2 separate regions of the Homo sapiens genome follow, and region 1 is linked to region 2. Evidence: fine-mapped expression QTL. Tissue or cell type: whole blood. Region 2 holds a variant in brackets; the other region holds the start of a gene. All regions are shown on one strand. Distances are between the middles of the regions. Region 1 holds the start of FANCC (FA complementation group C). Region 2 overlaps FANCC (FA complementation group C).

Region 1 (5,386 bases), 19 kb after region 2:
ACTTTATCGATAAAAAAAATTTTAATGAAATTTTAAAAATAATTCAATTCACAATACCATCAAAAATAAAACTTCAAAATTAATTTACAAAAGGGCAAAATTTGTACACTGAAAATTACTAAATACTGCTAAGAGAAATTAAAGCGCTCAACAAATGGAAAGAGATTCCATGTTCATGATGAGATGGCAATTCTCCCCCAAATAGATATGCAAAATTAAATGCAATTCCTACAAAGTCTATCACAGCACGGTTTTCTGAAAAAAAATAACAAACTGATACTAAAATTTATATGGAAATGTAAGGAACCCTGAACCGCCAAAACAATTTTGAAAATGAAGAAAAACATTGGATAACTTACACTACTTAATTTCAAAACTTACTATAAAGCTGCCATAATCAAGATAATGTAATGCTGACATAAAAGGCATGCAGGTCTCTTACCCTCAGTCCCGTATTAAACTTGAGTTAGAAGATGCCAATCTCAAAATGGAGGTAAAACCATTGCCTGCTAGCCCCCAGTCCAACTCTGGTGGCCAATCTGAATTGTTACCAATTTTATTTTTCCAGACACGGTCTCAGTCTGCTGCCCAGTGTGGAGTGCAGTGGCGCAATCACAGTTCACTGTGGCCTCGACCTCCTGAACTCAGGTGATCCTCCACCTCAGCCTCCCGAGTAACTGGGACCACAGCCCCGCATCACTATGGCCGGCTAATTTCTTAACTTTTTGTAGAGACAGGGCTCTCTCTGTTGCCCACGCTGGACTCGAACTCCTGGGATCAAGTGATCCTTCCGCCTCCGCTTCCCAAAGTGCTGGGATTACAGGCATAAGCCACCATGCTCTGCCTGTTATCTGAATTGCCTTTCCTTCTCCACTTCTGCATTTTTATTAAAACATTGCAAAACTTCCAAGGTGCTTCTCCTGTATGTATTTTTTCACATTAAGTCAATCACTCAAGATCCACAAACAAGACAGAGAATGCACATATCCCAGCCTAAAATAAAACTTTTAAAAATCATTTGGTGCTCATTTCCAGCCCGATTTGAGGCCCTAACACTACCAACTTGGAACTACCACTCATGTGAGTTTCCTCTGGCTCTCTCCATGGCCCAGATAATCAATCCAACTTTCTACTGGCCAGGCTGGCCTCCCTGTAGCTGGTTCTCATAAACACGAAATTTGTATAATTGTTATTGGAACTACCTGCTGAAATATGGAACTGGTTAAAAGTACCATTTGTTTTAAAATGTACATGCACAGTTGCACATACATGCAGCAACACATCTTCCACAACCAGCCAATCAATCAAGTTAATGCTTTTTATTAGAGGACAAAACAAAAAATACCAATATAGAGCCTGCTTTTCTTTTCTGATGCCTTGGTAAACGTTTTTGGAGAAATCAAGAGAAAATATGACCGAATAAAGCAAAAATAAATTCGAATGTATAATATACAAAGTATAATTAGTCCAGTTCTCAAGAAGCAGGCTCTATTACTGGGAGTAGTGGGTTGGTGAAAAAGATCTCTGATATATCTAGGAAAACAAATTCTTTTTCGATGCAGCCTTTCTTGTATATGAATAATGTATATGAGTGCTTATTTCCAGGTGACTCTGGTACAGCACATAACATTGAAACATCAATTCAAGTTTAATGTATAAAGTCGCAATGAACATGTTTTCCATCTAAGCTTAGGTAATGAATGATCTCAACACATGGTATGAATTCTACTGTTTGTAACAACCTTTCAGGGGAGTAAGGAGAAAACGATCTGTCTGAGGGCATATCACTGACAGTGAGTGACAGCCACAAAGAGCTGAAGTTGGGTGGCCCAAAAGTGCTCTGCTCATTTGATAAATGCTAAGTCAAATCACATCACAGTTTAGATGCATTAAATGGGGCACAAGTTAGAATAAAATCAGATGCCCGGGAGTTTTCCAAGTTTCAGATTAGAACAAAAGTCCAGGCACATACAGGACTTTGCTAGAAAACTCCTTGGTCTCTTCCCTTAAGATTCTGGTACCCAATTTCCCATGTTATAAAACTCCAAGTCTTTTCCCCCATTCGGTGCGCTGGACACATAAGATCATAGAGGGTTCGTAGTTGTAAACGCACCCACCTAAAAAATTAAAAAGAGCAAACCAACAAACAGCACCTGAAAAATCTCTCACGGGCTTTGAAGATATGGCCTGGCGTCCACAAAAAGAATGGAGGGAAGACACTGGCCTCTGCGAACCCGCCTCCCTCCGGGAATAAAAGGCGGAGGGCGGGAGGGGTAACAGCCGCGCCCCGGGCTCCTCTAATTGGACCTCGCCCCTCCTGGCGCCCCGGCGAATGGGGTTTGGGGGCAGGGGTGTGAGGGACGGGGAGGACGAGGCCAGCTGTAGAGGGCGACCGGCTCAAAGGGGCGAGCTTTTCACGGCTCCCACGAGTCCGAGGCAGAGAAATTCACCTTTGCTCCTCTCCTTTGAAGAAGACATAGCTGCCTGCGCTCAATGAACAAAAAGAACCAAAACGCCAACACCCGGCTCCCGCCTCTCCGGGGGCTCCCTTCCGCGCGACCCCAGCGCCGGCTCCCGCCCCCGCTTTCCCCGCCCTGGCCCCGCCCCGCGGGCTGGCACCGCCCGCCACCTTCCGCCTCCCGCCTCCCGCCTCCCGCCTCAGCCTTAGCCACAGCCCTGCGCCGGCGGGAACCCCTCTCGCCCACCGCAAGGCGCGCCTGGCCCACCCGCTCTCGCGAGCCTTCCCTCTTGCCCCTCGCCTCCTCCTCCCGCTCTCGCCGCTGACGTGTCGGCCAGACCCCCGAGGGAAGCCTCCGCCCTCGCTGCGTTCTGCGGCCTGCCGCTTACCGGGTGGTCCTCGCGGGAGCTGCTTCAGCAGTTTGGGCAGTGGCGGAAAGGAAGCCACCGCCCGGGATCTGTGGCTTGAAAATTTGGCTTTGCCTCGTATTGGCTTTTTGAGTTTTTTTGGAATTTTCCCGCGGTCGCCCGGCAGTGGAGCCGCGCGCGCGCACACGTGTCAGCAGTGCATTCTGGGGCCTGGCTAGCGGCCCCGCGCGCTCCCGCGGCGTCGCGGGAAAATTCCGACGAATCTCGGGTCCGTGGGGCGGGGCGGGCGCGGCCAGGGCTCTGGCGGAAGTGGGCCCGGCTGGGGCGGGTTCTAGGCGAGCGGAGTCGGTACTGCTCCAGTGTTCCCGGTTTCGCGCGGAAGCCCCGGCGGGAGCAGGGTTGCAGCAGCGCCCGCGGAGAAGGGGCGCTGGCTTCTTCCATATTCTGTTCAAAATGTAGGGGAGGTAAAATGGAAATTAGTTCTTTTGAAGAAAAGTTGAGGCTTTGTCAACGGGGTAAAACCTCTAAAATAAGATTTTCTAACTGCGTTCTAAACAATAGCAACAAAAAAGGCATCTTCAGTTAATGATTTCCCCTACCGTACATTAGTTCCATACAGTGTTTGGTCGGGGTTCAAATCAGTTCAACGCTGTACATAAACCACCCAAACAAATATTAATAAAATTTTCTCCAAACTCCCATTTATGACAATGGCATTAGCTTGTCTTGGTGAATTTTTTTTTCTTCTAGGATCTGACGACTTAAGCTTTAAAATGTCTTAAATCAATGCCTCACAACCATAAATCATAATCATAAAACTACAGCTTAGGTCGGGCGCTGTGTCTCAGGCCTGTAATCCCAGCACTTTGGAAGGCCAAGGCGGGCGGATCACGAGGTCAGAAGATCGAGACCATTCTGGCCAACATGGTGAAACGCCGTCTCTACTAAAAATACAAAACGTTTAACCGGGCGCGGTGGCGGGCGCCTGTAATCTCAGCTACTCTGGAGGCTGAGGCAGAATAGCTTGAACCAGGGAGTCAGAGGTTGCAGTGAGCCGAGATCGCGCCACTGCACTCCAGCCTGGCGACAGAGGGAGACTCCGTCTCAAAAAAAAAAAAAAAAAAGCTACAACTTCACATATACGTTCAAAAACACACTACAGGCCGGGCGCGGTGGCTCACACCTCTAATCCCAGCACTTTGGGAAGCTGAGGCGGGTGGATCACCTGAGGTCAAGAGTTTGAGACCAGCCTGGCCAACATGGCAAAAACCCGTCTCTACTAAAAATACAAAAATTAGTGTGTACTCCCGGCTACTTAGGAGGCTGAGGCAGGAGAATTGCTTGAACCCAGGAGGCGAAGGTTGCAGTAAGCCAAGATCGCACTACTGCACTCCAGCCTGGGCAACAGAGCGAGACTCTGTCTCAACAAAAAACACCACAAAGCTGTGTGTGCTTGTAATAAAAATAGCTCTCAAGTATTTAAACATGTCCAACTATTCCTATGGTGAAGAAATACCCGTTTTACCAATGAATACTTTCAATTCAGAGACTAATTTGCAGAGGTTATACATTTATAAGTGATACAATAAGTATATAGCATAGCAATAGCAACAATCTGTTTAAGAATTAAAGGTAGTTAAAAAAAGGAACCGATCCAGAGGTTGAGACAAAACTGGCAGAATCTGCAACTACATTAAGGAATTCGGTGTTTACATCCATTCTCGAAACTATTCCATGCCAGTTAAGGAAGTCGGTGCTTTTTGATTGTTTTTTAATTTTAGATTCGGGGGTACATGTGCTTGCTTGTTACATAGGTATATTGTGTAATGGTGGGGATTGGGCTTCTGGTGTACCTGTCCCCCAAACATTGAACATTGTACCCAATAGCTAATTTTTCAGCCCTCACCCCCTTCCCACCCTCTCCCTTTTTGGAGTCCCCAGTGTCTTGTTATTCCCATTCTTATGTACATGTATACCTATTGTTTAGCTCCCGCTTATGAGAACATGCAATATTTGATTTTCTGTTTCTGAGTTTGTTCACTTAGGATAATGTCCTCCAGCTCCATCCATGTTGCTGCAAAGGACATGATTTCGTTCTGTTTTACAGCAGAGAGGTCGATGTGTTTTTGATGTGTGCATAGTGTGACATGGATAAATCAAAAGCAAGTCCTGGGTAGGGAAATACATGCCTGAGGGGCACTCATCGTGGCACCTTGACCATGAGAAAGTCACCTCTGTGGTAACAAATCGAGAGTGAGTTGACGTTTAAGTTCTGCATTTATCAGCAAAGAAAGCAATTAAAGTATGTATTTCTTGAGAGAAATTATCTATTTTGGTACCCACATCCTTTTACATATTCGCTGAAAAATCATTTTTAGTGTTTGTTAATGATTGATGTCTTGCCATATCCCAGTTTTCTGTCTTTTTAGTTCAGTGGTTAATAAAGAATTGCTAGGCTCATCCAACTTTGCAGTATATGAAATGACACCATGTTTAGGCCTAAATTAGACCTAAATAGGAAGCATATATAGCATAAAGATCCAAACTTATATTTATAGGG
Region 2 (5,386 bases):
ACTAAAAATGTCTTCACAGCAAAGAAAATAACAGCGTGAAGAGACAACCTACAGAATGGGAGAAAATATTTGCAAACTATGCATCTGAGAAGGTGTTAATATCCAGAATATATTATATAAGGAACTCAAACAGCTCAATACCAAAACAAAACAAAAAACAAAACAAAACAAAACAAAGCAAAACAAAACAAAGCAAAACAAAAAAACCTGATCTTTTAAATGGTCAAAGGGACCTGAACCAACTTTTCTTCAAAGAAGACAAACAAATGGCTAGCAGTTATTTGAAACAATGCTCAACATCAGTAATCATCAGGGAAATACACATCAAAACCACAATAAGAGAGGATCATCTGAGGCCAGAGTTTGAGACCAGCCTAGGCAACAGAGCAAAACCCCATCTGTACAAAATAAAAAATTAGCCAGGCAGGATGGCGCATGCCTGTAGTCCTGGCTACTTAGGAGGCTACAGCAGGAGGATCTCTTGAGCCCCGGAGGTTGAGGCTACAGTGAGCTATGATCACGCCACTCATTCCAGCCTGGGCAACACAGTGAGACCCTGTATCAATTAAAAAAAAAAAAAAAAAGAGTACAATGGCTGTTGCCAGGGGCTGGCAGGAGGGGAAATTGAGAGGTGATAGTTAAAGGTACAAAGTTTCAGTCCTAAAAGAGAAGTAAATTTTGGAGATCTACTATATTGCATAGTGCCCATGGCTAACAATATTATGCTGTATAGTAAAAATGTACTAAAAGAGTAGAGCTTATATTAAGTGTTCTTACCATACACAAAAAAATAATAACAAAACAGGCAGGGGGAACTTTGGGAGGTGATGGGTATGTTTACAGTTTTGATGGTGGTGATAACTTCATGGGTATATACTTATCCACAAACTCATTGAGTTCTATAGATTAAATATGTACAACTTTTTATATATCAATCATATCTCAATAAAGTGATTTTAAAAATCAAAACAAACCTTTTACATCTGAAAATATCAAGGATCTACTGCACAATATATTAAAACCTCTCTATCACACTCCAATTTAAAATGACTAAGGATCATGACCTAGACACACTAATTAAATGTAACAAGAGGTTTCATTGCCTGAAAAATAGAAAAGTAGTAAAGAGACAGATCCTCAAATGTCATGTCTTTGGATGACAAGGAAAACTTTGAAGAAATAGGTGGAAAAACTCAACAGATCTGAAAATAAATGTTGTCTTTAAAAATAATTATGTGGTTTTTATTTTAAAAAATTTATTGATATGTTCCCATACCAAATCCACAGAGCTTTGTTAGGCTTTTTTTTTTAATCTAAGGGTAATTAATTTGAATTTTCCAACAGGGTTTCAGTAAAGCATAAATGAGGAAATTACATATATCTAATGGATTAGAATATTTCAAGTGTATGGATTTCGATATGAAGACAGAAAGTGGAGAAAAGGCAGGTAAGGTGTATTCAGTTAGCCAAACAAACACAGTCATGTGTTGGGACAATATTGGGCTGGCTTTACACCTAGAGTATACACCAAAATAAAGAACATCAAACATGAACACTGACATTCACACTCAAGATAGTCACAACTGGATTGAAGCGGGCTAGCTCTCATCTACAGAATACCTTTGATATGTCTAAAAATTTTCAAAATTGTAATGAAGTTCAAAGGCAACTCATGGCTTTTATATATTTAGGAATGGAGAAATGTCTCAGGACTCTGGTCAATCCTCTTGAAGAAACTCTTAAAATCTCTTTCATTTCAAACAATAACATTAGTCATAGTCACTGAACTTAAAATACAAACTAAAACTGCAGAGTGAGAAGTGTTACATAGTACAGCAGACTAAGTGGAGCACTTAACCCAGATTTGGGGTGTTGAGGAAAGTTTCCAGAAAAAGAGACCTGACACTGAGAACTGAACCATATGTGGGGGCTCACCAGGGGAACAGCAGACTGAGGCAAGAGGGACTTTCAGCAAAGTGTAGACTAACAATACAAAAGGCAATTGTTTAGAATCCTGCCCAAATCAGGGATGCCTCCTTTCTCTAGGCATCTACACTGACTTATAATAATGGAGATAAACATTTTAGGGCATCTAGAGATAGAGGCCAGCCAAAGGAATACACTACTCGTGCTTTTATATTTTGATCTCACCATTTTTTATCCCTCTGCTGGTGACTGGCCCACCTACATAGCATCTTCCCTCCCTCTCTCCGTCCCTCTCTTCCTTCCTTTCCCAAGGTTTTCAGGAAACCCGCTTTCTTAGAAGGAGATACAGATGCCCACAACTTCTGTTGGCATGTCTGGGCAACTGCTTCCAAATGAATGCTGACTCTTGTTACCTCTTCTGGAGAGAAAGGAAAGGCTGTGGTG[T/G]TATCTAATTACCTCCATTACTTTATTTGTGTAAGATTCATCAGACAGGCTCTCTACTTTGTAATAAAAACATTAAAACAACACCAAGCATAACTTCTACAAAAGGATTTCTCAAAAGAACCTGACAACTATTACATGTTTTCTCTCTTTGTAGAAATATGTATAATGTATTTTTTGGAAGAGGGGCACACAGATCTGAGTGTGGTTTACTAATGGACAAAATGTCACAATAAAATTTCTCGCTTCTCACAAGAAAGGAAAGCATCATGATATGTTAAGTGTGAGGGGGACTTCTGGCTATAAAAGTACATTTTACCAAGACTGTCACCCTGCTCAAGCAAGTAGTAGATGGATTTAAAAGGACTTTACAAAACAGAGTAAGGACTCTGGACTTTATTCTAAGAGCAAAGGTAAGTCACTGGAGGATTTTTAGCATTAAAGTGATATACTCAGATTTCTGTTTCAGAAAAATCACACAAGCAATATAGAAAATGGACCACCAGGGGAGACAAGATCATACTGTAAGATGGAAGACCATCTTACAGTAACTGAGGCCTAGTCTAGTCACATGAAGGAATAGAGAAAAGCACCCAGATAAGAGATGCTTATCAGGGAGAACACATAGTATTTAGTATTTAGATCAGACATAGTAAAAAAAAGGAATAGAGAGGAGGTAAAGATGTTGCTTAGGTTTCTGATTAGAGAACTAGATGTGTTATGCCACCATACACTGAAAGGGGCAACAAAGGAGTAGGAACATACTTGGATAAAAAGATAGGCTCAGCTTAGGGCATGGTGAGTACAAGAGACCTGGGGCATCTAAATGAAGAGGTCCAATAGGCAGTGGGTATGTGAGGAAGAGGTTAGGAAACAGGCCTGAGCTGAAGACATAGATGTAGAAACATCAACAGAGAGACAGTAACTAAAGCTATGGAAATGGATGAGATAACCCAGGGAGGATGAGAAAAGGTCTGGGCCAAGGACAATAGAGATATGGGAGCAAAGGATGGCTCAGCTGGCCTGTGAACATTCAATTGAAGAAAACGTCTTGTACCCAGGGAGAAGTAGCATGAGTTCTGCTGAGATCAATTAGCAGACCTGTAGCCCACCCATTCTGTTCTTAGCTGTCACTTCCAGGTTTAGTCTGCCATCTTCACAAAGACTACAGCCATCCAAAATAAATAAAAGCAGTCAAAACCAACTGGCAAAATCATTGTTCTAGTTTTATTTAGTAGATTTGAAGCGGATACCATCTGTGCAGCCAAGTAATATACAAATACAAGAAATCAATCTTGTACCACAAACGCAATCCAAAAGCCATATCAGGACAGCACAGACATACAGTAACATCAGACAGAATTTCAAAGTGCTATAAAACACAATGATTCTACTTTTTGGTTGCAGGCTTTAAAAATACTACGGTATATATGGTTTTAAGATCCTAAATTGCAGTCATGTTCTTAAGCTAGTTTGTTTTTCTATTTAAGTGTTGACAGACAAAAAATACAGTTTTAGTCTAACACACCATTTACCTTACTTTTAACTTTATTTGAGCCTTAAGGGTACTCTTGCAAAGCAACAAAAATGTGCAGAACCGAGGTCAATTAATAACTAGTTTTGAAAATCTACTGAACTTTTAACTGCACAATATCAAAATCCCTATAATTTGTAATGAGCAATAAGAAAACTTGAAATTTTTCCAGCTTTGTCTAGGATTTCCTCAAAGATGAAGAACATATTATTTTAAGAAACTGTATGTGGTTCCTCTGTATGTCACATATATAGTTCTTTACTAACAGTGACTCTATTGCTAGATACCCACATGTAGACTACATTTTAGTAAAAAGGTTCCAAATTCAGTACTGAAACCGTTATCCACATCTAACCGCCTTCTTGGAGCAAAACCTTGTTTTCTAAGCCCCAGAATAGGTTTTATCCCTTAGTCAATACTTAACCCTCTGTCAAATAAAAGTTACTAATGGTATCACAAATATACTGTATCTCTGCGGCCCTGCAGTGGCTCACACCTGTAATTCCAGCACTTTGGGAGGCTGAGGAAGGAGGATCGCTTGAGTCCAGGAGTTCGAGACCAGCCTGGGCAATATAGTGAGACCTCAGCTCTACAAAACATCAAAAAATTAGCCAGACATGGTGGCGCATGCCTGTGGTTCCAGCTACACGGGAGGCTGAGGTGGGAGAATTGTTTAAGCCTGGGAGGTCGAGGCCATAGTGAGCCATGTCCGCATCACTGCACTCCAGGCAGGGAGACAGAGTGAGACCCTGTCTCAAATGCATGCGCACACACACACACACAAAATGGTATCTCTGTATACTCAAAACTCATCTCCTCAAAGTCTGTCCATTTCTATCCATCATTGACTGGCAATGTATGTGTCATGGATGTCACACTTTTTACTATCAGAACTCCCAGAAGTAGGGACTTTATCAGTCATTTCTTTGTAAGGGTCTACACACAAAAGCCACTTGATATTAGCGGCCAGCCAATTCTATGGTCTCCCAAATATAGGGAATAAAAAAGGAAATAAGTTCCTTAATATCTTGTTTTATATTTGAAATTCAGCAAGTATCGTATTTACCCCCACCTTCCTCACCTCAGCCTTCTATCTCCATCCACTGAAAAACTGGATCATGAAATTTAAGCAGAAGGGAAATCTGGTAATGGTAAGATTAAGAAAAGGGAAGAAGTCTGAAGAATCCAAAATATGGAGGAGAAAATAAGAAAGAATGATCCAAGTAAAAGACTAAAAGGAAAATTTAAGCCAAAAATAATAAAAAGGAATAAAATACATAATAAAATACCTGATAAGGCAATGTCAGGTGATAACCAAGAAAAAGAAGTCTGTAGGAAATAAATACAATTTCTTTTTTTTTTTTTTCAGACAGTCTCGCTCTGTCGCCCAGGCTGGAGTGCAGTGGCACGATCTCGGCTCAATGCAGCCTCCGACTCCTGGGTTCAAGCAATTCTCTTGCCTCAGCCTCCTGAGTAGCTGGGATT

Evidence for each region. PIP is the estimated chance that this variant, and not a neighbour inherited with it, causes the effect.
Region 1: it holds the start of FANCC, and the variant in region 2 is fine-mapped to the expression of FANCC in whole blood (TOPMed, PIP 0.96).

The regions. Positions count from the first base shown.
Region 1 is chr9:95,314,679-95,320,064 of GRCh38, forward strand. It overlaps FANCC (FA complementation group C), which reads right to left and starts at 3,031. Exons shown (of 15, transcript NM_000136.3): 1 at 2,848-3,031. RefSeq lists a silencer at 2,383-2,702.
Region 2 is chr9:95,295,204-95,300,589 of GRCh38, forward strand. All of the region lies in intron 1 of FANCC (FA complementation group C), which reads right to left. Among named protein-coding and RNA genes, the nearest start is that of FANCC, 20 kb to the right of the region's middle. The variant T/G (reference allele first, on the strand shown) is at 2,371.